4 linked regions of the Homo sapiens genome follow. The protein of the gene in region 1 purifies or fractionates together with the protein of each later gene. This does not show direct contact. Each region holds a gene or a part of one and is shown on either strand. Other genes may lie near its edges. The genes, in order: LRFN4, NCK1, NCK2 and USP30.

What was found.
Region 2: the proteins of LRFN4 (region 1) and NCK1 purify together in Homo sapiens (co-immunoprecipitation; 3 studies listed by BioGRID and IntAct, with this or other methods). This does not show direct contact.
Region 3: the proteins of LRFN4 (region 1) and NCK2 purify together in Homo sapiens (co-immunoprecipitation; 4 studies listed by BioGRID and IntAct, with this or other methods). This does not show direct contact.
Region 4: the proteins of LRFN4 (region 1) and USP30 purify together in Homo sapiens (affinity purification with mass spectrometry; 2 studies listed by BioGRID and IntAct, with this or other methods). This does not show direct contact.

The regions. Positions count from the first base shown.
Region 1 is NC_000011.10:66,853,079-66,860,113, forward strand, and holds the start of LRFN4 (leucine-rich repeat and fibronectin type-III domain-containing protein 4 precursor), read left to right. Parts: upstream 1-3,985; 5' UTR 3,986-4,666; coding exon 4,667-6,015; intron 6,016-6,558; coding exon 6,559-7,035. Other genes in the region: PC (pyruvate carboxylase, mitochondrial precursor), read right to left, coding at 161-305. UniProt on the Homo sapiens protein: Promotes neurite outgrowth in hippocampal neurons. May play a role in redistributing DLG4 to the cell periphery.
Region 2 is NC_000003.12:136,949,208-136,952,106, forward strand, and holds the end of NCK1 (SH2/SH3 adapter protein NCK1), read left to right. Parts: 3' UTR 1-2,399; downstream 2,400-2,899. UniProt on the Homo sapiens protein: Adapter protein which associates with tyrosine-phosphorylated growth factor receptors, such as KDR and PDGFRB, or their cellular substrates. Maintains low levels of EIF2S1 phosphorylation by promoting its dephosphorylation by PP1.
Region 3 is NC_000002.12:105,880,864-105,887,913, forward strand, and holds part of NCK2 (cytoplasmic protein NCK2), read left to right. Parts: intron 1-464; coding exon 465-1,186; intron 1,187-7,050. UniProt on the Homo sapiens protein: Adapter protein which associates with tyrosine-phosphorylated growth factor receptors or their cellular substrates. Maintains low levels of EIF2S1 phosphorylation by promoting its dephosphorylation by PP1.
Region 4 is NC_000012.12:109,069,559-109,076,608, forward strand, and holds part of USP30 (ubiquitin carboxyl-terminal hydrolase 30), read left to right. Parts: intron 1-2,053; coding exon 2,054-2,152; intron 2,153-2,746; coding exon 2,747-2,792; intron 2,793-3,879; coding exon 3,880-3,974; intron 3,975-7,050. UniProt on the Homo sapiens protein: Deubiquitinating enzyme tethered to the mitochondrial outer membrane that acts as a key inhibitor of mitophagy by counteracting the action of parkin (PRKN): hydrolyzes ubiquitin attached by parkin on target proteins, such as RHOT1/MIRO1 and TOMM20, thereby blocking parkin's ability to drive mitophagy.

The sequences.
Region 1 (7,035 bases):
GGGTGCAGGACAAGAGGACGCAGGGCCAGAATGAGGGCAGGGGTGAGGGGCAGGGGGCACTAAGGAGTTCTTTGGTCATGGGGAGTGGCAAGGAGGTAGGAGCAAGAGATTGGAGAGCGGAGGGGAGGGGAGGGCAGGGCAGGGCAGTCTCGGGCCAGACCGAGGTAGTGCAACAGCTTTTGGGCCCGGTTCTGTGCAGGCCGCAGCTGGAACAGCTCTGGGTTCTCGTCGATGAACTGGGTGTCCACAGTGCCTGCCAGGAACTGCTGGTTGTTGAGCACATTCTGCAGGAAGGCGATGTTGGTCTGCAGGACAGAGGCGGGTGGGAGGGGGTCACCATGCAGCACAGACAGGGAAGGCAGAGGAGAAAAGGCTGAAAGAGAAAAGGCTGAAGATGCTGCCCTGGGCCAGCACAGCTTCTGGGCCTCCCTGCAGAGGGGCACTTCCCCGTCCCTCAGCCCTCTCCTCACTCCAGCAGAGCCCCCTAAGCTGTCACGGGCTGGGCCTGCTCCCTCCATACTTGTTTACACCAAAGCATGTGCTGAAGGCCACCCTTCCTGCCTCCCCGCAGCCTAGAACAGGGCTCAGCCTTTTTCTCCAGCAGCGTGGCCCACAGCAGTCACCCTTGCCCCTCGTCCACGCTTCTCGAAAGAGGGCCTTGACCGCAACAGACCACACTCTGGCACTCTAAGTCACTCCTCCCAGCTGAGTCCAGCGGGCATGCTCCCGCCTTGCTGCTCGTTCCCTGGGCTTCCAAGCCATCTTGCTCTCCTGTCCTCTTCCTCCCCAGCTCCTCACACACCACATGCTCCCCAGGAGGCCCCGTCCCGGGGCTGTGGCGCCAGTGACAGGCTCTGCCTCCAGGGCAAGACCCAGAGGTGCAACTGCCTCCCGGGCCTTTCCTTGTTCACCCCTCGCATAAGTTCAGCAAGTCCACGGCCAGCTTCCTGCCTATGCACCCAGTCCTCCTGTGCCCAGTGGGTGCCCCACTGTCCCCCCAGTTACCAAAACCTGCATCCCATCACCCTCATCACCCACTCCTCCCATGCCACTGGTCAAGCCAGAGGATTCGACCACGGCCATTTTGGGACCTTGTGACCTCTTCTCCATCTCCAGGCCACACCCTCCACCGCCTTCCTCATTGTGGCCACCTCCAGCCACATCAAACTTGCCTTGCGCTCCACACCTTTGCACCTGCCTGGGAAGCTCTCCCTGAACTTCTCAAGGGCCTTCGCCCTGTCCTCACACCCTCGGCAGAGCTGACACTCACCTTTCCAGCAGTCCCCTGAGGAACCCGCTGTGGGCAAGCACACCCATCGGCTTCATCCTCTGCTTGTCTGCCTGGGAACCCTTGGGGGCAGGGTGCTGCCTGAGGCATGTGTCAGTGCACTTTGTGCACAGGGGCCCTCGGTTCCACTCATTAAATGCCTGGGTGACAACATGAGGCTGGGCCAGGGTGAGTATGACTTAAACGGGGACATGCGAGCCAGCACTGTGACAGGTGCTCCAAGACCTGTGAAAGCATGGCCTGTGGCTGTGTAGCGACAGCCCTGGCTTCCACCGCGAAGAAAACACCTCCACGCGTCACTTATTCATGATCCCTGTCGGCACCTTCAACAGGGACTCAAGGCCACCCAGACTCCTCTGAGCTCTCCGTCTCTTAGGCTCCTATTACCTGGAGGCCTGGACAGGAAGGGTGCCTCCCCCACCAGCCTGTCAGGTGCTCACCACAGAGTGGGACCCCGCCAGCAGTGCTGTGCCTGTCTGCCCCTGAGCCTCGCCCCTGCCTCTCCTGAAGAGATGCTGACATTTCAGCTGGGCCAAGGCATGGCACTGGAGAAGGGAGGCAGCTAATGAAACCATCCAAAGAGCCCCGAGCGCGCAGAGTGAGAAGGACCCTTGGAGGCCTTCGCCCTGTCCTCACACCCTCGGCAGAGCTGATGCTCACCTTTCCAGCAGGCCGCTGAGGAACCTGCACGGGCAGGGCTGAGCGCAGACCCACACTGTTGCTGGGACCCTTGTGTTCACAGACACACGCTGAAGGTCATAACCGTTCTGCATCACCGAGTCATGTGGAGGGTCCCCACTGAGTCTCCCCTTTGTGACTGTCGGGTTGCCCATCCTCTCCTCCATACTGTAAGCTCTATGGGGGCAGGAACCAGGCCCATCTGGTTCCTGATGAACCCGGCTCCCAGCACTGGGTGGCCATGGTGGATGCTGGTAAACATCTATATTTAGAGTGAATGAAAACTTTTTTTTTGAGACAAAGTGTGTCGCCCAGGCTGGAATTCAGTGGCACAATCTCAGCTCACTGCAACCTGTGGCTCCCTGGTTAATGCGATTCTCGTGCCTCATCCCAACAGACATGCGGTACCACGCCCGGCTAATTTTTGTATTTTTAATAGAGATGGGGTTTCGCCATGTTTGCCAGGCTGGTCTGGAACTCCTGGCCTCAAGTGATCCACCCGCCTCGGCCTCCCAAACTGCTGGGATTACAGGCATGAACCACTGCACCCGGTGGAAAACATTTTTGATGGGGAGAAGAGGAACAAAGACATAGCTGGTGCCACTGCACATCAGAGTTGACCTGCACCAGGACTGAATCCCCCTCATTTTACAAACGCCACAGCTGAGGCCCAGTGAGTGGTGACAGAATGGCTTCTGGCTGCCTGTAAGCCCCTCACAAGCTGCAGCTGTCCTCCCCTCTCGCCCCTAGGAAATGCTTATGTATGTACCATCCAACTCTCCTGGCCTACAGGAGGAACTTGTTTTCAGTGGTCAGGTAACGTGCCCAGGACTACACTGCTGTGCTGACAGGATCAGAATTCCAATCTTGGGTTTCCCCGAGTTTCCTGCCACCTGGCCCATGGGGATCAGGGCTGGAGGGAGAACGAGGATGGCTGAGGTTTAGGTGGCTTAAGGACCAGGAGACACGGGGAGGTGGTGACTTCCTGTTTCCCAACTGGGCAGACCACTGGTGGTGGCGGGCACAGCTGGAAGGAAACCAGGCTCGCCGAGCCACCGAAGCCCCAGCTTTCTCAACCAGGAAGCAAAGAACCTCCCCCACCTCACGCCGGGAGCCCTTTCTCTGAGAGGAGCTGGTTCCGAGCCGCTCTTCCAGGGAAATGGCCCGGCGGCGACAGAGCGGGAGGGAGGGGCCGCAGGCGCTGCGAGGACGCACAGCTTCCCAATGCGTGCCCCCGGCGGTTGGGAAGCCGCGCCGCGCAGACCAATCCGGCCCGAGGCGGAGGCCGGTTGGCTCCGGAACGCCTGGCCCGCGGGGCGGGCGGGGCAGCTGGGGAGGGAGGGAGAGGCGAGAGGCAGCTGGGGACAGGGCGGGGCGGCGGGGGCGGGGCGCCTGCCCGGAGGCCAAGCCCTCTCGGCCCCACCCCGCAGCAGCCCTGCCAGGGGCGCCGCCCCAGCCCCCCCCACGGCCGAACCCCGTGCCGGTTGGGGACCCTCCACGTGACTCGGTGATGCAGAACGGTTATGACCTTCAGCGTGTGTCTGTGAACGCAAGGGTCCCAGCAACAGTGCGGGTTTGCGCTCGGCCCTGCCCGTGGGTGCAGGGACGTGTGGGTGTGTGGGCATGTGTGGGTGTGTTGGGGAGGGTGCCCAGCGACATGTGACAAAGACGCCCGTCTCCGGGAGATGGTGAAGGGGCCCGCGAGCAGGCGCTTTGTCTGGCTGTCTGCAGAGTGAGGTTCGCGCCGCGGCGGCGGGCGCCCGTGCGGTGCAGGATGCCGGGGCGCCAGGATGGCCGGGGGCGCGCGCGCCTGTGCCAGGGTGAGTGCGCTGCGGCAGCGCCGGGGGACAGCGCGGAGGGCCCGCGCCGGCCCGGGCCTCGGGCGTGACTGGGCGCCACCCGTGGGCGCTGCAGCGGCCGCGTGTCCCCGTGACCTCAGGAGCCGGCCCGGGCCCGGGTGGATCCCCGCGCGCCCCTCCCCGTCCGCCCTCCACGTGCGTGTCCGCGGCGCGCGCGCCCGCCGGCGCGCACCCGCTCGCCTGTCGCCGCCGCCACCGCTAACCGCGCCGGGAAAAGGTGCCGGGAACCGAGCGAGCCGGGGCCGCGGGCCCGAGCGCCATGGGCCCGAGGGTGGGCGGCGGGCGGCCGGTCATCCCCGGGCCTCGTCCCCGCGGGAGAGCGGCCAGGAGTCGGCGGGGGCCGGCCGGGCTCGCAGGGAGGCCGGCCCGCGCCCCCTGAGCGACGGACACCAGGTGAGGGGGCCGCCGGGCGCAGCGCGGGGGCCGGCCAGGGAGGGGCCACGGACTCCACGGGAGGTTCGGGGGGCGCCTTCTCTGGCGGGGGAGGGTATGGCGGGGAGTGGGGAGGCGGCTGGCGATTCCTGGGGACGCCTGGGAAAGGAAGTTCCGGGACCCTCCCTGCTCTCGGTCCTCCTCCGCTTCCTGCCTCATGCCTCACCTTGTCCCCAGCGCCTGGACTCCCCCTTAACTGCTTGGGAAATGTGACCTTTGCTCTGGGGGGCCTGGCCCTGCAGGCCCCAACCTTCCCTCATCTCTGGCGGCCCTCTTGGGCCTCTGACCCAGCCCCTCCCCGGGCCAGGCTCACAGAAGCTGGCTTCTGGGACTGTCCTGGGCCCAAGTGGGCACCTGCGCCAGCCCCACCTGTGCCTGGGCTGTGGCCCCTTCCTACAGGGCGCTCACCATGGCCCCGCCGCTCCTGCTGCTGCTGCTGGCCAGTGGAGCGGCCGCCTGCCCGCTGCCCTGCGTCTGCCAGAACCTGTCCGAGTCGCTCAGCACCCTCTGTGCCCACCGAGGCCTGCTGTTTGTGCCGCCCAACGTGGACCGGCGCACAGTGGAGCTGCGGCTGGCTGACAACTTCATCCAGGCCCTGGGGCCCCCTGACTTCCGCAACATGACGGGACTGGTGGACCTGACACTGTCTCGCAATGCCATCACCCGCATTGGGGCCCGCGCCTTTGGGGACCTCGAGAGCCTGCGTTCCCTCCACCTTGACGGCAACAGGCTGGTGGAGCTGGGCACCGGGAGCCTCCGGGGCCCCGTCAATCTGCAGCACCTCATCCTCAGCGGCAACCAGCTGGGCCGCATCGCGCCGGGAGCCTTCGACGACTTCCTAGAGAGCCTGGAGGACCTGGACCTGTCCTACAACAACCTCCGGCAGGTGCCCTGGGCCGGCATCGGCGCCATGCCTGCCCTGCACACCCTCAACCTGGACCATAACCTTATTGACGCACTGCCCCCAGGCGCCTTCGCCCAGCTCGGTCAGCTCTCCCGCCTGGACCTCACCTCCAACCGCCTGGCCACGCTGGCTCCGGACCCGCTTTTCTCTCGTGGGCGTGATGCAGAGGCCTCTCCCGCCCCCCTGGTGCTGAGCTTTAGCGGGAACCCCCTGCACTGCAACTGTGAGCTGCTGTGGCTGCGGCGGCTGGCGCGGCCGGACGACCTGGAAACGTGCGCCTCCCCGCCCGGCCTGGCCGGCCGCTACTTCTGGGCAGTGCCCGAGGGCGAGTTCTCCTGTGAGCCGCCCCTCATTGCCCGCCACACGCAGCGCCTCTGGGTGCTGGAAGGCCAGCGGGCCACGCTGCGGTGCCGGGCCCTGGGTGACCCCGCGCCTACCATGCACTGGGTCGGTCCTGACGACCGGTTGGTTGGCAACTCCTCCCGAGCCCGGGCTTTCCCCAACGGGACCTTAGAGATTGGGGTGACCGGCGCTGGGGACGCTGGGGGCTACACCTGCATCGCCACCAACCCTGCTGGTGAGGCCACAGCCCGAGTAGAACTGCGGGTGCTGGCCTTGCCCCATGGTGGGAACAGCAGTGCCGAGGGGGGCCGCCCCGGGCCCTCGGACATCGCCGCCTCCGCTCGCACTGCTGCCGAGGGTGAGGGGACGCTGGAGTCTGAGCCAGCCGTGCAGGTGACGGAGGTGACCGCCACCTCAGGGCTGGTGAGCTGGGGTCCCGGGCGGCCAGCCGACCCAGTGTGGATGTTCCAAATCCAGTACAACAGCAGCGAAGATGAGACCCTCATCTACCGGTGAGGATGCGTGCCCCACACCCGGCTGCACTCCCGGCGCCCTTCCTCCGCCCTCTGCTCCCCACAAGGCTTTGCTTCCACCCCTCCTCTCTCTGGGGCTGACACCCCCTCCCCGACCATGGCTGCTGGACTCTTGGAGGAGCAGTGGCCTGGCCTGGCCTGGCTGCCTGAGGGGGCTGGAGCTCAAGGGGCGGCAGAAGGACCCCACCCCGAGATGTCCCAGGTGTCACTGAGCTGTGCAGGCCTCCCCGGCAGCAGGTGGCGGTTGGGTCTGTCTGAAGCACATGGCCCGCGCCCGCGTGTTATTTCTGCCTCTGCTGGTGCCATCCCCCCACCCCATTCCCCTCGCTTGCCTGCGTCCTGTGCCAGTGCACACACCCATCTCCTGGCCACACTCTCCAGCCTGTTCACCTTCCTGAGTGAACCCAAGAGCCCGAGTGGCCCCAGGGGGAGGGGTGTTTGGAGCTGGGAGCACGGGAGTGGGGAGGTGAGGATGGGGCTAGACCCCAGCCCCGGGCTCTGACCACCTGCCCTTGCCTGCAGGATTGTCCCAGCCTCCAGCCACCACTTCCTGCTGAAGCACCTCGTCCCCGGCGCTGACTATGACCTCTGCCTGCTGGCCTTGTCACCGGCCGCTGGGCCCTCTGACCTCACGGCCACCAGGCTGCTGGGCTGTGCCCATTTCTCCACGCTGCCGGCCTCGCCCCTGTGCCACGCCCTGCAGGCCCACGTGCTGGGCGGGACCCTGACCGTGGCCGTGGGGGGTGTGCTGGTGGCTGCCTTACTGGTCTTCACTGTGGCCTTGCTGGTTCGGGGCCGGGGGGCCGGAAATGGCCGCCTCCCCCTCAAGCTCAGCCACGTCCAGTCCCAGACCAATGGAGGCCCCAGCCCCACACCCAAGGCCCACCCGCCGCGGAGCCCCCCGCCCCGGCCGCAGCGCAGCTGCTCTCTGGACCTGGGAGATGCCGGGTGCTACGGTTATGCCAGGCGCCTGGGAGGAGCTTGGGCCCGACGGAGCCA
Region 2 (2,899 bases), on another chromosome or scaffold:
TAGTGTTATTTATTTTTTTAATCCCACTTGTATTATTTTACCTCTAGAGCATCTTGTATTAGGACATGTTATATTTATGCCAGTGGGAAATAAGTTATGGCCAAGTTTTGCAAAAACAGGAAGCAGTGAGATACTTGTTTTTTTCTCCTCACTAAATATCAGTAATTGTCAGGAATGGTATTACCTATTTTCATTTCCTCTTTTCAGCTTTAAGTTTTGTTGATTGGGACACTAAAACTGATGTATACCTGAGGAAAAAATAGAATGTGCTCATGGTTAGGGAAAATTATATTATTTTTAATTTTTTAATTTGTTTTTTAACCAAGTAGGAATTTGGGTGTATGGATAAGAGGCCAATCTGCTTCTGTAGGCTATAGAAGAAAACCAGTTGTATTTTATGGTCATAATTTGTCCCCCTATTATTCTGGAGATTTAAATTTAAGTAAAGTAGCCATCAGTATTTTAATTGAAAAATACTAAAGCCACATAACTGAGTAGGATGTCGTATGATACTTTCAACAAATTCCCTAATGCTGCCTAAGCATATGGATGTTTTAATTCTTTGCTGTTATAAATAGATATCTAATACGCCAGAATTACTGATGGTAAAATTGAAGTTGTGTAACTTGTGAATTTTTTTTATCAATGTTTTAAATATTATTTAAATCTTAAAATCATTTAAAGACTTATGTTGCCACTGGGTGGCAGCCATGGCTTCTCCCACTAAGCAACAGAAGTGACCAAATATAATTAAGACAAATTTTCATCTCTATTACATCTGCTTTTAAAACATTTTAGTTCATATTCTATTATTTTTCTAACTCAGTACTCCTTTGTTGAGGGTAATTATTAGTAGTTAAGTTTTTAATGGAAATAAAAATCATGTATGCTTATCTTTGCTGTAAAATCAAATGAATATAAATTGAGGAAAACTTTAAATTGTTGTAGGATGACTAGTAGTAAACATCATCTTAATTTTTAACATATATTTGATGATGCTTTCCTTTTCTCTGTATGTTTCTGGGTTTTCCCCCAGTCTTCCTTATGAAAAAAATGTATGTTTGTAAAAAGAGAACAATTAATGCTTTGCATCACAGACATAAACTATTCATAGTAAACTGCACTGAGCTGATATTAATAGAGCAGACTTTTGAGAAAGTAGGAGTGTAGTAGCACTGGAAACAGAATGCAAATTTCTGTTCCATAATTAGGTTTATTGTAGCTATAGCGCTCCCAGATAACCCATGTGTGCTAGTAATATCTATTGTGTGCTCTTACTATGGTATAAAAACCTCGCTGGAAGCTACTTATTTTGTACTTAAATATTTTACCAATTTTTAAAAAGTCTTAATCCAATGCTTATACCAGTGACTGTTTTTATAATACTTGAAGTAACTTTAAGAACTGAAACAACCCTGGAAAACTCTACATAGCTAGATAGTAACAATACTTGTATAAGAAACCAAGTTTCCTTATTCCCAGCCTGGTGTCTGTATCGTGACACACTACTCTGTGTATGCTTGGTTTTAGACTAGGAGGAGAGTCCTGGGAAGGGCAATATTACAGAAGTTTTCTTCCACATGAGGAGAATGCTTAGTTTCAAATTTAAATACATGTGTCAGATGGAACCCTGCCTAACTCACTTCTACAAATAACTTCCCCAAAATCTTAGAAGGTTTTTTAGAACATGATATAAGCTTTGTGACAAAAACAAATGCCATTGTGTCCCTTATTTAGTCATAAAACCTTAGGATTCAGCTGAATATATATTCACACATGTATATTACACATATATCACTATACAGTTAACACATGCACCTTGCACTATTAGTGACAAATAATACTGCTAAACAAAATAGGCTTCATGCAATCTATTGCCATTGCTAGAAGAATAAATAGGCCTAGCAGATGGGCAACTTGGGTTGTTAGAATAAGGTCATTCTTGCAGAATATGGCACTTAAATTATCTCCAGCTGTAATGTCCTACCATATAATCCAGAGGTTGCATAGAAGCAGAGTTGTCACAGTCTCTGTAGCACGTTTGTGAGAATTCTCTAGGCAGGCCCAGCCCTTCTCTAGAAGTTTGAATTTCACTCCCACCTTGTTGCTGGGGTACCTTCTTCAGGGTACATCTAAACACAGTGGCCTTATACAGAAATGTTGTTCAACCCACACAGTGCTTTAAAAAATTAATTGCCAACATTTAAAAATCAGGGAGTTTCACATAAAATTCAGACTTCTTGTTTCCCTTTAAAAATGAGAAGCTAATAACATGAGTTGAATTCCCACAAGTCAACAATGAGCTGGAATCTAATATGGATGGTCCTCTTATCTTTACCAGTGCACATGGTGAAAAAATTCAAACAGTATAATAAAGTCTTCTTTCAAGTCAAAATATAGAGACGAATCTCTGAAACGTTTTATTTGGGAAGCAAGAATTGTAATTCAGGGCATATACACAGACAGTAGTTTTTGGTATGTCTAAAGAACAGAGAAGATGGGGAGTTTTATTATAAAGAGAAATGTTACGTATGTTTTGAAAGAAAACTCATTGGTTCTAGATAAGTTTTTGGGAGGTGGCAAGCTCTGATTGGTGTGTGACAGTGATAGGTAAAACCAGTCTTAGAGTCACAGCAGGTCATTTCAGCAGCTACTAGGTAAAACTGGTCTTAGGGTTTACAGTAGTCTGTTTAAGTAGCTGGGCTTGTGGAAAACTGAGTTCTTGGAGCAGCTGCTATGTCCTTCATGTACTTTTTCCCCTTAATGCATTGAATCTGATTTGGTTGGGTATGACAATAATTACCCAATTTGTATAATTAACTTTCACACTCCCAACCCTTATCCCCCTAGTTGAGATCTCCAGATGCAGTTTACTCTCCCTGTTTTTCCTATAACATGG
Region 3 (7,050 bases), on another chromosome or scaffold:
TCTGGCTCAAGCCATCCTCCCACCTCAGCCTCTCCAGTAGCTGGGGCCACAGATGTGCACCACAGGTGGCTAATTTTTTTTTTTTTTTTTTTTTTTTTTTTTTTTGCAGACACGGTCTCGCTATGTTGCTTAGGCTGGTCTCAGACTCCTGGCCTCAAGCAATCTTCCCGCCTGGGCCTCTCAAAGGCTGGGATTCCAGGCGTGAGCCACTGTGCTGGCCCTGTGACATGTTTTTATGGATAAAATAGATCAATTTAATTCTCAACTTTAAGTAACTTCGCAACTACAGGAGGCAGCTGCCAGCAACCGTATTTTTCTCATGGTAATTACAGTTTGTAAGCACTGTCCATGTGTCGTCCCCTTGTATTTAACCGCCAGAGAAACTGCGTGGAAATCCCGGTAGGCTAGGGAGTGTGGTGGTGCCCAAGTGCCCTGCGCCACTGAGCCTTGCTGTGTCTCCACAGGCCTCGGCAAGACGCGCAGGAAGACCAGCGCGCGGGATGCGTCCCCCACGCCCAGCACGGACGCCGAGTACCCCGCCAATGGCAGCGGCGCCGACCGCATCTACGACCTCAACATCCCGGCCTTCGTCAAGTTCGCCTATGTGGCCGAGCGGGAGGATGAGTTGTCCCTGGTGAAGGGGTCGCGCGTCACCGTCATGGAGAAGTGCAGCGACGGTTGGTGGCGGGGCAGCTACAACGGGCAGATCGGCTGGTTCCCCTCCAACTACGTCTTGGAGGAGGTGGACGAGGCGGCTGCGGAGTCCCCAAGCTTCCTGAGCCTGCGCAAGGGCGCCTCGCTGAGCAATGGCCAGGGCTCCCGCGTGCTGCATGTGGTCCAGACGCTGTACCCCTTCAGCTCAGTCACCGAGGAGGAGCTCAACTTCGAGAAGGGGGAGACCATGGAGGTGATTGAGAAGCCGGAGAACGACCCCGAGTGGTGGAAATGCAAAAATGCCCGGGGCCAGGTGGGCCTCGTCCCCAAAAACTACGTGGTGGTCCTCAGTGACGGGCCTGCCCTGCACCCTGCGCACGCCCCACAGATAAGCTACACCGGGCCCTCGTCCAGCGGGCGCTTCGCGGGCAGAGAGTGGTACTACGGGAACGTGACGCGGCACCAGGCCGAGTGCGCCCTCAACGAGCGGGGCGTGGAGGGCGACTTCCTCATTAGGGACAGCGAGTCCTCGGTAAGTGCGCTGCGCCCACAGCTCCGGCTGCAGGCAGTAAATGCGCCTTGCGCGGTGGGTCTGTGTGCCGCGCCCTTTTCACATTGTGTGAGTACACTAGAAAGAGCGGGAGACGCAGATGAATGCAATTTAGTATAATGTTTGCTACTCCGTGATTTACTTGCATCTGTTTTGGGGATAGTGGGTGTCCATTTCTGGAGGTGGGAGATTAACTAAAAAGATGTTTTTAGCTCACAGAGGTGGTTCTGCTTCTCTCCCAAGATTCCCCCTCTTGTATTTCACAGGCTCAAACATCATTTTCTCTCCTGGTTGCCCATTCTGTGTACGTAGAAGGCCCGAGTGATTTACTTTGTTTCTATTCGGTCTGTGTCCCAGAGAAAGCATTCTTTGCAAGACTGGTGGCTGGTTTCTGACACCTCCTTTTGTTGTTTGCTTGCTTTCTCTTTGTAAACCATATAATCCCAAGGTCATTGCCACGGCAGGCAGCGCCACTGAGTTCATCTCTCAAAAGCTTTTAAAGCACTTACGAGATAAATTGAAAAGAAAACAGGGGTTCTTGGGAGAGATGAGTTTTGTTTGTGTGCAGTGAGTCGGAGATATGAGGCCACTCGACTGGGGCAGCAGACCCAGTTCAGCGGTGGGCAGGCTGGGGGCGGTGAGTTTCAGGCATGGGGTCAAGCCTGCATCCCAGAAGGCAGGCTTTTCGTGTGTGAAGGAAATACTCGACCAGTTTTGCAAACGTCTTTCCGAATACACCTTCTACAATCGAGAGACTTCCAAAACAAGCATTTAGGAGATAGAGTTTAATGTATTTGAATTGTATTGGTTCTAGGAGGCTTCAATTTCATTTTTAAATGCACGCTATAAGACTAGTAAGTATGTACTACCTGCTGCCACTGCTGTCCTCTGAAAAGATTACTGGCACAATGAATAAGTGCTCATTCAAGGGTCCTGTTGACTGATCAGAGAGGCATTCAAAGCCCTCCAGAGAGAGGCGACTGGGATGTGCTCTCTTTGAGGACGGAGCATCGTGGTGGTGGAAACTGGACTCCTTTATGGTGTCATCAATTTTGCGGAGCCTTACATGTGCTTGGACGGGAATGCCAGGCTGAAAGCTAACTTCATCTGAAATCTGAACTCTGAGATTTATCAAGTCACCAGAGTTTATCATTCCTGGCAAGACATCACATTGAATTGTTCTCACATGACGAGAGCTCTGTGCACCACTTCTTTTAGATCGTGTTTGAAGCCTTAAGCAAATTAAGGACAGCAGCGCTTTTAACTCAATCGAGCAGAAACTTAGAGAAAGCGCTGGAAAACCAATTACAATATTAAGTGCTTGGTCCAGAGTCCTTAAGGGCTAAGTATAATGCACAAAATATGATCTTGGCTTAAAATTTTTTGAGTTTGAGGAGACTTCTCAGAAGGAAGTCCTGCAGTGTGGAGACATTGGTCCCAGTCATTATTCTTTCTGCCTAAGATTTGGGGAAAAGAGGAAAGACTTTAGAGGGTAGATGAAAAAGGTGTTCTCCGGGGTTGCTGGCCTTAGGGAGGACCTATGGCTTTTCTGTGGAACATGCACAGGTGGTCATTGCTGTCTGAATTCAGGGACCAAGTCCCTTTGGATAAGGAGGGATGCATGCATTGTCTGGGTTTCATCTCAGAACTCTGCACCCCACTGTCTCAGTTGTCTTATATTGTTAGAGAATGAGCTAACTTTTTCTAAAGAACTAAAGCACGAATTGTTTGTATTTCCTTTTAACAGTTTTTTAATGGGGGCCTTTCAGGGTTTTTTGCATTCTCTCCTAACTTAGAAAGTCAAGGAACAACATATATGATTCTAGGAATATAGGGCGGAAAGAGCTTTACTGGGACTTGCATCGGCTCTGCACACATAGCAGCACCGTCTTTGTCTGAGGTTCCACGTGGCCTGATGCTGTGCAGGGCAGCTTGTCCTGATGGATCTTGCCGTGACACGGGCCATTTTCAGCTGTTAGTGTGCATGCCTTGTTCCATGGGGATTCTGCAAGAGCCCTGAGGTGTGTGTGTGGCTTCTTTTCTCCTGACAGCAGAACCATGCCAGGTTTGCTGTATTTCCTGTTCATAACCAAGGCGTTCTCAGCTGTCATCTGTGACTACCAGGGACCTGTCCTGGTGGACAAGTGGACAAGTCCTTTGCTTGTTTTTTTCCCACCATCCACTGCCTCCCCCCGTCCCCATGTGTTTTCCTGCTCATTTTGGCATTTCTCAGGTTAGAGCTGGCTTTCGCAGCCACCACTAGGCCACCAAGAGCCCTTAGGTTCATGATCTGACATAATTCCTTCGCAGCATGCCAGGATGGAAAGGTTTCTGAGGGGTTCAGCCTCCCTGCAGGACTCAGTCAGGCATCTTTATTTAATTTCCTTTTTTTCTTGCAGTCTTTGGGCCTGGGCCTTTAATTGAGGTTATCACATGAGGCCTGGCTTCTGGATAAGCACAGCTGTTTTTTTTGGAATGGATCTTCAATAAAATATCCTGAGTGATTGCAGTGTAAATGAGCTAGACCCTTGCTTGACGATATTGAGGGGTGCGTATTTCAGGGAAGACAAACATTGCCACATGCTACACTATCCACTATCAGTAAGTGCTGGGTATTTCAGAAGTATCTGTTGGATATGTTAGATGAATCAGTGAACCAACAAACGAACGAACCTCTTGGACCCTCTTTCCTGTCCTGAACTTCAGTACCTACTGCTTGTCCTTCCATTTCTTCCTCCTCCCTCGCTCTCCTCTCTCATCTACAATTGTCATTTATCCTTAGCAGCTAAAGGTGATGCATTGTTGTTGCTTATTCTCCATATTTCGTTATCATACCTTCACCTGTGAGCCATACCTGCTTAAATCCAGAAAACTCAGAAATCCTACTCACCCTGTGTGTGTCCATTATAAATCCTTTTATATTACATTTTGTCCACATTGATTCTATGGATGTGGCTAGAAAGCTGTACTTAAAATGAACAGTAACCCTTTACTGGGTTTCTGGTAAACTGTACAAGTTGTCAATATTTTATTTTCTTAATTGCTGCATCTCCCATCCTTGTAAAGCTTGTTCAGAAAATGACAGATCACAACTAGGATATGGTTGGAAAAGGTGCAGAGCTGGCCTGCAAGTGCGGGAGGCCATTTTCCTCTGTAAGATTTTAGTTCCCGAAGATATCATGTATTTATTATGTCCTGCAATAGTATTAGATACTAATATTTTTTGTCATACAGTACTTTTTTTTCCAGTAGAGAAAAACTGTCTCGCTAAGGATAATTTAATGCACATATTTGTTTCATTTCTCTTTTTTAAAATATATGAAAAGTATTTGGCTGGGAAATAAAATAGAATAGCTCCTTTCTGTATTTTTAAAGTTATAATATTTCTTAAAGAAATTATAACTTTTACCCAAAACTCTATTTTCAGGCAATTTCATCATTCCATTTCTCTAAATAATGATTCTCTAACTGTATGTAGTGTGTATCAGAATTGCCTTGAAGCTTGTTAAAACAAATTGCTGGGTCCTACCTGAAATGGTACTGATTCAGGAGGTCTGGGGCCCAAGAATTTGCATTTCTATTAATAGCACGTTTCTTGGTGGTGATGCTGCTGCTTTTGGGACCACACTTTGAAAACCCTTGATCCCTATGATGCATTCTTAGTGGTTTTATATATTCTTGCAGCTGTTATTAAAACCATTTCTGCATAATACTACATTTCCATGAATTATAAAAATATTGTCATAAAGCTGAACTTCATTTAGAACTGAAGCTTTTGTTGAGTGGGATTTATCTCTTGAAGTATATTTCTGTTGAGTTTTTTGGGGGGCTTTTTTGTGTTTTTGTTTGTTTGTTTTTTACTGTTTAGAGTTTGAAAATAAACGTGCTGTATTTGCTGTGTTTCTGCTGATGAATTAGGAGGAGGTAGATTGTCAGAGCAATGTGAAAGCTGCTTCCAGGGTTTCATGGTTAGGCTCCGTGATCCATGGTGTTTCTTCATAAATGAGTTAATGTTAAGATGACTTAACCTTAGGTTGCTGTGAGCAGTGCCTGTAGGCATCTTTCCAGTTTCAAAGATAACAAGTTATTTTTAATTGCCAGGCTTTTTGCCCAGTACCAAATGGAAGTTTTAAGCCTGGATTTTTGTAATAGTTCTAATTTTAAGCATATTTAACTCTTGAAGATGGAAAGGCCTGCAAGATCATGCAGTACAGGCTGTTATCTGGAAGTTTAGTGCTCATCACCTGATTCTGATTCTCAAATGGGCCAGAGCCCTTGAAGACTCTGCCTTCTCACTCTGGCTGGCTCTTCAATGCTGACCTTTAAAACAGACAACATCCAGCATCACCAGCAAACTTGCTAGAATGCAGATTGCCCCAGCTTGCTGACTTCGAATCTCTGGGGTAGGGCTCTGCAACCTTGGTTTGAAGAAGCCCTCTGAGTCCTTTTTTTGTTCCAAATCCTGAGAACCTATGAACTCCTGAATAATTCTGATGCGCCAATTTGAGAACCACTACGTTGTGGAGTATGCACTTGATTCAAGCCCTTTTGCATACTGTTGTGTAATATGGTAAAATTCTGACTTAAATGTATCACTCAGTCACATCAGGTATGACACTATGGAAAGACAAAGAATAACAAGGACAATATTCTACAGGTCTATATGGTGAGGTATTACATGTGACTTTAGGAAATACATTTGGGGATAGGGAGGGCTAACCACACACATGCATACTAACTGGAAAGTGGACAGGGAACGCTCCGTTTGCCTAGATTAGGTAGATGGGACTTGGACAGCTGCTCTGTAGTTGATGATTGACTTTTCATTTATGTAAATAAGATTACTTCCAAAGTTAATGAGATGAATATTTGAACATGTCAGTGTGGATTGGCTTCAGGCCTGTGGAGTAAATATTTTATAGAGTGAACATTGATAGGAGAATAGGAAAAGCTGGTGAGACTCTTCACACTTGGGGCAAGGAAGAGATAATCTGATGTAAAAACAAAGAACATAGGGTCAACTGACAGCTAGCAGCATAAGTATAGGCAGGAGTAATTTTTATTAAAAGAAGGCTACCTTAGACAACTAGGGCAGGTGACCAAATAGAATGGTAAAACTGAAAGGCAGTTTTTCTGAGATAAAAACAGAGAAACTATTAATCAGTGGATCACGATTTGCCTCTAACCCATTTGTTCTCACTTTTGGGAGGTAAATGAACCACTTCTGTGGACAGAAGAGTGCCTTCTGTAAAGAAGTAAAAGGGGAAAAACATGTCTTTACCAAAAGAAAAGAATGATACAACTTGTGATAAGAAACCAACAGGGTGACCTCTCTCTGGGGGTAGAAGGAGATGTGTAGATTATTGATGCTTGGAGACTTCAGCGTGGCTGGAGATCAGTCCAGGGTCTGTGTGGAAGGCCTGGTGAATCACACAAAGGGCATTTCTACCCTCATCATTTCATAAAGTCCAAAGTGAAAGATAAGGAGAAGTTTTAAGGTTTAAAGAACCAAAAGTACCTGGAGCAAGGCCCCTCCCTCCCGTTTCCTCATGACTATTGTGCTTAGAAGAAAATCGCATTAATACATAAGCTTTCAGGAATGGAGGAGGAAATAAAGGATATTAAAGTCTGTCCTCGGCATTCATTTTTTTCCTTCTATGAGAAAACAATGATTAAATCTTGAGAGAGGGAGAGGCGTATCTGATCAGGACATCTGTTTTATAAAACTGCAAAGGTGCTTTTCAGCAAGTATTTGAGGCAATGGATCAAGCTGGCAAAGCCATAGAGATGGGATCAAAGAGTGTGCTCTCTACTGTTCTTTTCTAAAAGTACCCACTTATCGCGAG
Region 4 (7,050 bases), on another chromosome or scaffold:
AATGCCTGCCTGGGGTGGGGACTGTCGAGGGCAATGGAGTCGTAGCAGCAGACATGACTTGCAGGAGTTTCCTGCTCTCTTAGAGCTGGTATTCCAGTGGGGGATGAGGATAGCAGGCAGGGGTCGGTGCAGACAGTAAGCAGGGGATTTCAGGATATGCTAACAAGAAACTAGCTGGTGTAACATGGCATGGATAGGGAGGGCAGAGGAGGAGGAGCCAAGCTACAGGGGGAGACTGCTCCAGGTAGGGAGGCTCCTCTCAGGAGGTGAGGTTTCAGCGGAGACCGGAAGTATAAAAGAGAGTGAAGTGTGTGGACACCTGGGTACAGAGCATTCCAGACAGATGAAGAAGCTAGGGTATAAGTCTGGAGATGGTTATAAAGCTGCCACCTGTGGAGAATGGCAGGGAGGCCAGGGCGGGGAGGGCGGTGGAGGAGAGGGGCTGGCGAAGTTGGCAGGGAGCAGATTGTGCAGGGACTAGGAGGCTGCGGGCGGCATCAGCTTCTATTGTGTTTGCAGCGGGGAGCCACTAGAGGACTTTGAACTGGGGACTGGTTTGATCTGACTTGTTAGAAAAGGAAGGCTGGAGGGGCAAGAATGCAAGCCGAGAGGAAAGGTGGGAGGCCGCTGCAGTTATCTGGCCGAGATGGTGTGGCTCAGACTGGGGTCGAAGCAGGGTAGCTGAGAGTCCTCAGGAATTTAGGGCGTATTTTGGAGGAGGGTCCTTTTTTCAGGACTGCTGCTGAATTGGCTGAGGGTGGGTTAGAGTTCAGAGGGGTGGAGGCAGCTTTGGATAATTGGTTGGGGAGTATGCCCTGTGGAGGAGCTCTTTTGGCAGAGACCTGAAGGATAGGAGGTAGCCGTGCGAAGGTCTGAGCACAGCCCGAAATGGGAATAAGCTGGATATGTTCAAGGAACAGCAAAGAGGCCAGGGGCCGGGACATTGTGAATGTTGGGGGCTTTGTAGGCCAGATAAGAATGGTAGGTTTTACTCTAGTAGTGGAAGCCATTGGAAAGCTAAAAGCAGAAGAGTAAAGCTATCTGCCTTTTAAAGTATTGCTCTGGTGGCAGTGTGAGGGGACACCAAAGGAGAAGCAGAGGGCCTGTGTTGTGACCCCGTTACTCCCGGAAGAGTGAGGGGTGGCTTGGGTTTTTGGGGAGAGAGCCATTTGAGTTGATCCTTCAAGAGTAGTCCCATGCCATTGGATCCAGCAACCCCGCTGCTGGGTACAAACCAAAAGAATTCAAAGCAGGGACTCAGTAGGGTATTTGTATACTCAGGTTAATAGCAGCATGTTCGCAATAGCCAAGGGGTAGAAGCAACCCAAGTGTTCATCGGCTGATAAATAGGTAAACAAAACTTTCATACAATGGAATATTATTCAGCCTTAAAAAGGAAGGAAATTCTGCAGTATGCTACAACATAGGTGAAGCTTGAAGACGTTATGCCGAGGAAAATAAGCCAGTCACAAAGACCAACACTGTATGATTCCACTTGTGTGAGGTTCCCAGAGTAATCAGATTCCTAGAGAGATAAAGAATGGTGGGTGCCAGGGGTTGGGGAAGGGGAAATGGGAAATCAGTGTTTAACAGATATGGAGTTTCAGCTGGGGAAGATGAGAAAGTTCTGAAGATGGATGGCAGTGATGATTGTACAACAACATGAATGTACTTAATGCCACAGAATCATTCATGTTAAGATGATAAATGTTATGATATGTGTATTTTACCACAATTAACAAAAAACATAATCTTTTGAAATCGGAGTGGAGGTCAAGGCTGTCTCAGTGAAACAGAATGGTCTCATAGACTGCTGGCGTGAAGGCAGCCACCTGGCTTTCTCTCCTGCTCTCTGCTCCTGGACCTCTTGCTTGAGGGTCTTCACTCGTGACAGTGTCCAGGACATAACTGTTTTCTTTAATGAGCTGGGCCTTGAGAAGGTAGAAAGCAAATTCTACCCACATTCACTGTAGGGTGTCTGCCCGAGGTGGGTAGTTCTGATCTTGCTCTTGCCTCTTCCAACCTCTCTAAAGAATGCTTTGCCCTATGACAGGATGCTCACGAATTATTCCATGTCATTACCTCGTCATTGGAAGATGAGCGAGACCGCCAGCCTCGGGTCACACATTTGTTTGATGTGCATTCCCTGGAGGTAAACCATTAATATTTCCAACACGTTCTGTGCAGCTTGTGCATATTTAATAAGTATAGGGGAGGCAAGTGTAATCTTTGTACAACTTTAAAAGTAAGATTCAGTAAAAATCAGTGGTGGGAATGAGGCCAGGGGAGGGTCTTAAAACTACATGCTTTGCAGTTGGTGATCTGATTAGGGATGTCAAGGCTCTTTCAAATGATTCATTGCTGCAATTTGTGTTGGCTTTGAGAATAAAGAATGTGTTATTTTTTCCTGTTTAATACAGGGGAACAGGGGCCATAGGAATGCTAAGTGAGCCCTCATTTCCCTGTAACAGTATAAATATCGGAGGAGTTGACAAAAGTTAACCAGTAAGGATGAAAATATTCTGGAGAGAAGAAATATGTTTCTATTGCATTTGATGAAAGAATATTCATAGTATCCAGCCAGATAGGCTAATTGAGGCTACCTTTAGAAACCTGAGCTTTGTTAAAAGTTGATTTTTAGTGGTGTAATCAACGTAGAAACTTGTAAGGTTTAGGGGTGGGGTGAGGGTGGTGAAAGGGATTATAGTAAGGTTTTCAGTCTGTTTTTTTTTTTTCTCCCCTACAGCAGCAGTCAGAAATAACTCCCAAACAAATTACCTGCCGCACAAGAGGTAGCTGTTTTCCATTGAAATATAACACATAAGATGTGGACTTTTAAGATATGATAATAATTTGCTTGTTTTAAAAAGATTTTTTTCTGGTGACATACAGGCCAGCTTGAAGTGTGATGTGCTTGCAAAGGAACTTGTATTTTGGAAATAGCTTTAAATAGATTCTCTTGGTGTTCCCTTGCACCCCAGCCCAGCTGACTTTTCTTGAAACTGGCTTATTTGTACTTCAAACAAGGGCTTTCTTTTTACCTTTTTGAATTGATCCTGGGAAGAACATAATGAGCTGAATCTGTCGTGTCCTCAGCATTTCCAGTGCTGCCAAATTCTATTGCATATTACCACAGTCATCCTTAGGAGGAAATTGTTGTTTTCTTAAGACTTAAAAAATAAGATTAGCATATTAATTCCTCTGTGTAGTAATAGGAACAAATATTTTTTGAGCCCATGCTGTTTGCCAGGCATTGCATTATCTCATTTAAGCCTCATAACAACTCTACAAAGTTGATGATACTGGAGTTAATGGGATAATAACTATCCCAATTTTCCGCACACTGAGGCTTGTAGAGATTAAAGGCATTCCCAGGTCAGGTAGTGAATAAGAAGCACAGCCAGAGCTGATCCCTGGGCTGCACAACTCCAGAGCCCAGGTTTCTCACTTATGTTCTTTCCATTAAACCCCATTCTAGCCAAAGAAAGGCCTAGTTATTCAGAACTTGCTTATTCTGTTTATTTCAGAAGATTTTATCTCGCTTTATGGAATGTTCACTTGTGGTATCCTTCTTTTGACATCTCAAACATTTTAAGCATATGTTTGTAAAAAGACATTATTCAACACAAATTCCTTTTTAAAATGTGGCTCTACCCATTATACAGAAACCGTATATAAAGATAGATCTGTGTAAATTCTCCTATGAAGGAATGGGATGTCTTTTGGATGGAAGTCAATGAGGAAAGCTATTTCAATGTACTTTTCAAGAATATTTTTTCTTAAGAGGTAGTTTCTACCACATGCTAGAAAGGAAGATGAATGTTGAGCTTGGTGCCAAAGGGCTAAAAGTGACATATCAAAAAACTTTTTGCATTCCAGGGTCACCTCACCCTACATCCAATCACTGGAAGTCTCAACATCCTTTTCATGGAAGACTCACTAGTAATATGGTCTGCAAACACTGTGAACACCAGGTAAATACAATACCAACACTTGATATTTCCGGGAGAGGTTTTCCAAAAGTTAGGATTCTTGAAAGGACCTAGAGAGTGGGCTGACATCGGTCACTGGTGTTAGAGACTACCTGGCCTCTGCACACTAGTGGACTGACTACCCCACTTTGGTCAGTGTCAGCATGTCATTTGAGGTCAGATGGCATCTTCTGCACCAAGGACAACAGACCCACTGTGGATTGGCAGGCTCTTGAGTCCAGTGGTTGAGTCTATGCTCATGGTGGACACAGTAGATTCTAGGGCTGGTTTTTTCCCCTTTACTTTTGAGGTTTTAAAATAATATTTTATTATGGAAAATTTCCAACATCATACAAAAAGAGAGAATTGTACAACTGTCACCCCAATCCATTTTATTTTATTTTATTTTTTCACAGCCATTACTGACTCCGGGATCAGTCAACTTTATAACATTTTCATTGCCCCCTAAAGAAACTCCATACTCATTAGCAACCTCTCCCCATCCTTTCCATCACCCTACCCTTGTCAACCATGAATCTACCTCTGTCTCTATGGATTTGCATATTCTGGATGCTTCATATAAATGGAATCATGTAATGTGTGGCTTTTTGTGTCTGGCTTCTTTCATTTAGCATAATATTTCCACGTTTCTTCCATATTTTGGCATGAATCAGTACTTTGTTCCTTTTATTACCAAATAATATTGCATTACATGGATCTACAACATTTTTATCCATTCATCAGTTGATGGGCATTTGGATTGTTAACACTTTTTGGCCATTATGAATAATGTTGCTGTGAACATTTACATACAAGTTTTTGTGTGGACATATATTTTCACTTCAGTTGGGTATATACCTCAGAGTAGAATTGCTAGCTTATATGGTAACTCTTTTGTTTAACCTTTTAAGGAACTGCCAGACTGTTTTCCAAAGTGGCTATGCCATTTTTCATTCCCACCGGCAGTGTATGAGGGGTTCCAATTTCTTCACAGCCTCACCCACATTTTGATGTCAGCCCACTCTCTAGGTCCTGTCTAACATTGAGGTTCTAGCCATCCTACTGAGTGCAAAGTAGTATCTCACTGTGGCTTTTTCCCCCAGTTTTATTGAGATCTAATCGACAATAAAAATTGTATATATTTAGGGTGTACAAAGTGAAGATTTGATGTATGACTGTGTGTGTGTGTGTGCACGTGCACCTGTGCTCATATGTGGTGAGAACACTCTCTTAGTATATTTCAAGAATACAATACAGTATTATTAACTGTAGTCACCATGCTGTACGTTAACTCTCCAGAACTTATTCGTCTTATAACTGAAGGTTTGCATCTTTGAGCAACATCTCCCCACCTCCCCAGCCCCTGGCAGCCAGCATGTACTCTGCTTCTGTGAGTTTGACTTTTCTAGATTCCATATAGGTATGAGATCAGGTGGTGTTTATCTTTCTATATCTGGCTTATTTCACATAGCAGATGTCCTCCAGGTTCATCCATGTTGTCACAGATGGTAGGACTTCCTTTTTGATGGCTGAATAATATTCCATTATATGTGTATACCACATTTTCTCATTCATCTGTCTGTGGACATTCCATATCTTGGCTATTGTGAATAATGCTACAATGAAGATTGTTTTGCAGATGTATCTTTGAGATACTGATTTCATTTCCTCTGGATATATACCTAGGAGTGGCATTGCTAGTTCATATAATAGTTCTATTCTTAACTTTTTGAGGAACCTTCATACTGTTTTCCATTTACATTCCCACCAACAGTATGCAAGAGTTGCCTTCTCTCCACACCCTCGGCAACACTTGTTACGTGCTGTCTTTTTTTTTCAGACAGAGTCTCGCTCTGCTGCACCCAAACTAGAGTGCAGTGGTGCCATCTTGGCTCACTGCAACCTCCGTCTCTTGGGTTCAAGCAATTCTCCCACCACAGTCTCCCAAGTAGCTGGGATTACAGGCACCCGCCAACACACCCAGCTAATCTTTTGTATTTTTAGTAGAGATCGGGTTTCACCATATTGGCCAGGCTGGTCTTGAACTCCCAACCTCAAGTGATCCGCCTGTCTCGGCCTCCCAAAGTGCTGGGATTAAGGCATGAGCCACTGTGCCTGACCACATGCTGTCATTTTGGTAATAGCCATCCTAACAGGTGTGCGGTGATAGCTCTTTATGGTTTTATTTGCATTTCCCTGATGATTAGTGATATTGAGTGCCTTTTCATATACCCACTGGCCATTTGTATGTCTTTTTTTTGCAAAGTGTCTGTTCAGCTCCTTTGCCCATTTTTTAATCATGTTACTTTTTCTTTTTTTTTTTTTTTTTGCTGTTGGTCCATATGAGTTCCTTATAAACACTCTTTTAGTGTATTTCAAGTATTCAATTTTGGATATTAACCTCTTATCAGATATATGGTTTGCTAATATTTTCTTTCATTCCATATGTTGCCTTTTCATTTTGTTGATTGTTTCATTTGCTGTGTCATTGCGGTTCTGAGTGACATTACCTTGAAGACTAATATGTTGAATGGTCTTTTTAAAAATAAGGTTCATATATTAAAAGATATGTAAGATATGTTAAGGAACTGTAATCTATAAGTTGACTATTCATCTCTTTTTTCCGTGCATTATTTTGATACTATTGTAAGTGGAATTTAAAAAAATTTATTTTCAAATTGTTTGCCACTAGTATATAGACATACAGCTGTTTATATATTGACCTTATATCTTGAGATTTTTGTAAACATTCATTTATTACTTCTAGAAGCTGTAGAAGTTTTGTTATGTATTCCTTAGCATTCTCTGTGTATGCAAACAGTCATGTTGCTTATGAATAGAAATAGTTTTAGTTCTTCCTTTCCAACCCAATCTTTATTCCTTTTTTTTTTTTTTCTTTGCCTTATTATCCTGGCTAAGACTTATGGTACAAAGTTAAATAAGAGTGATGATGGCAGACATCTTTGCTTTGTTTCAAATCTTCTGAAGCAAGTATTTGGTGTTTTATAATTAAGTATGATATTAGCTTTAGGTTTTAGTATACCTCTTTATCATACTGACAAACTTCCCTTCTGTTCCT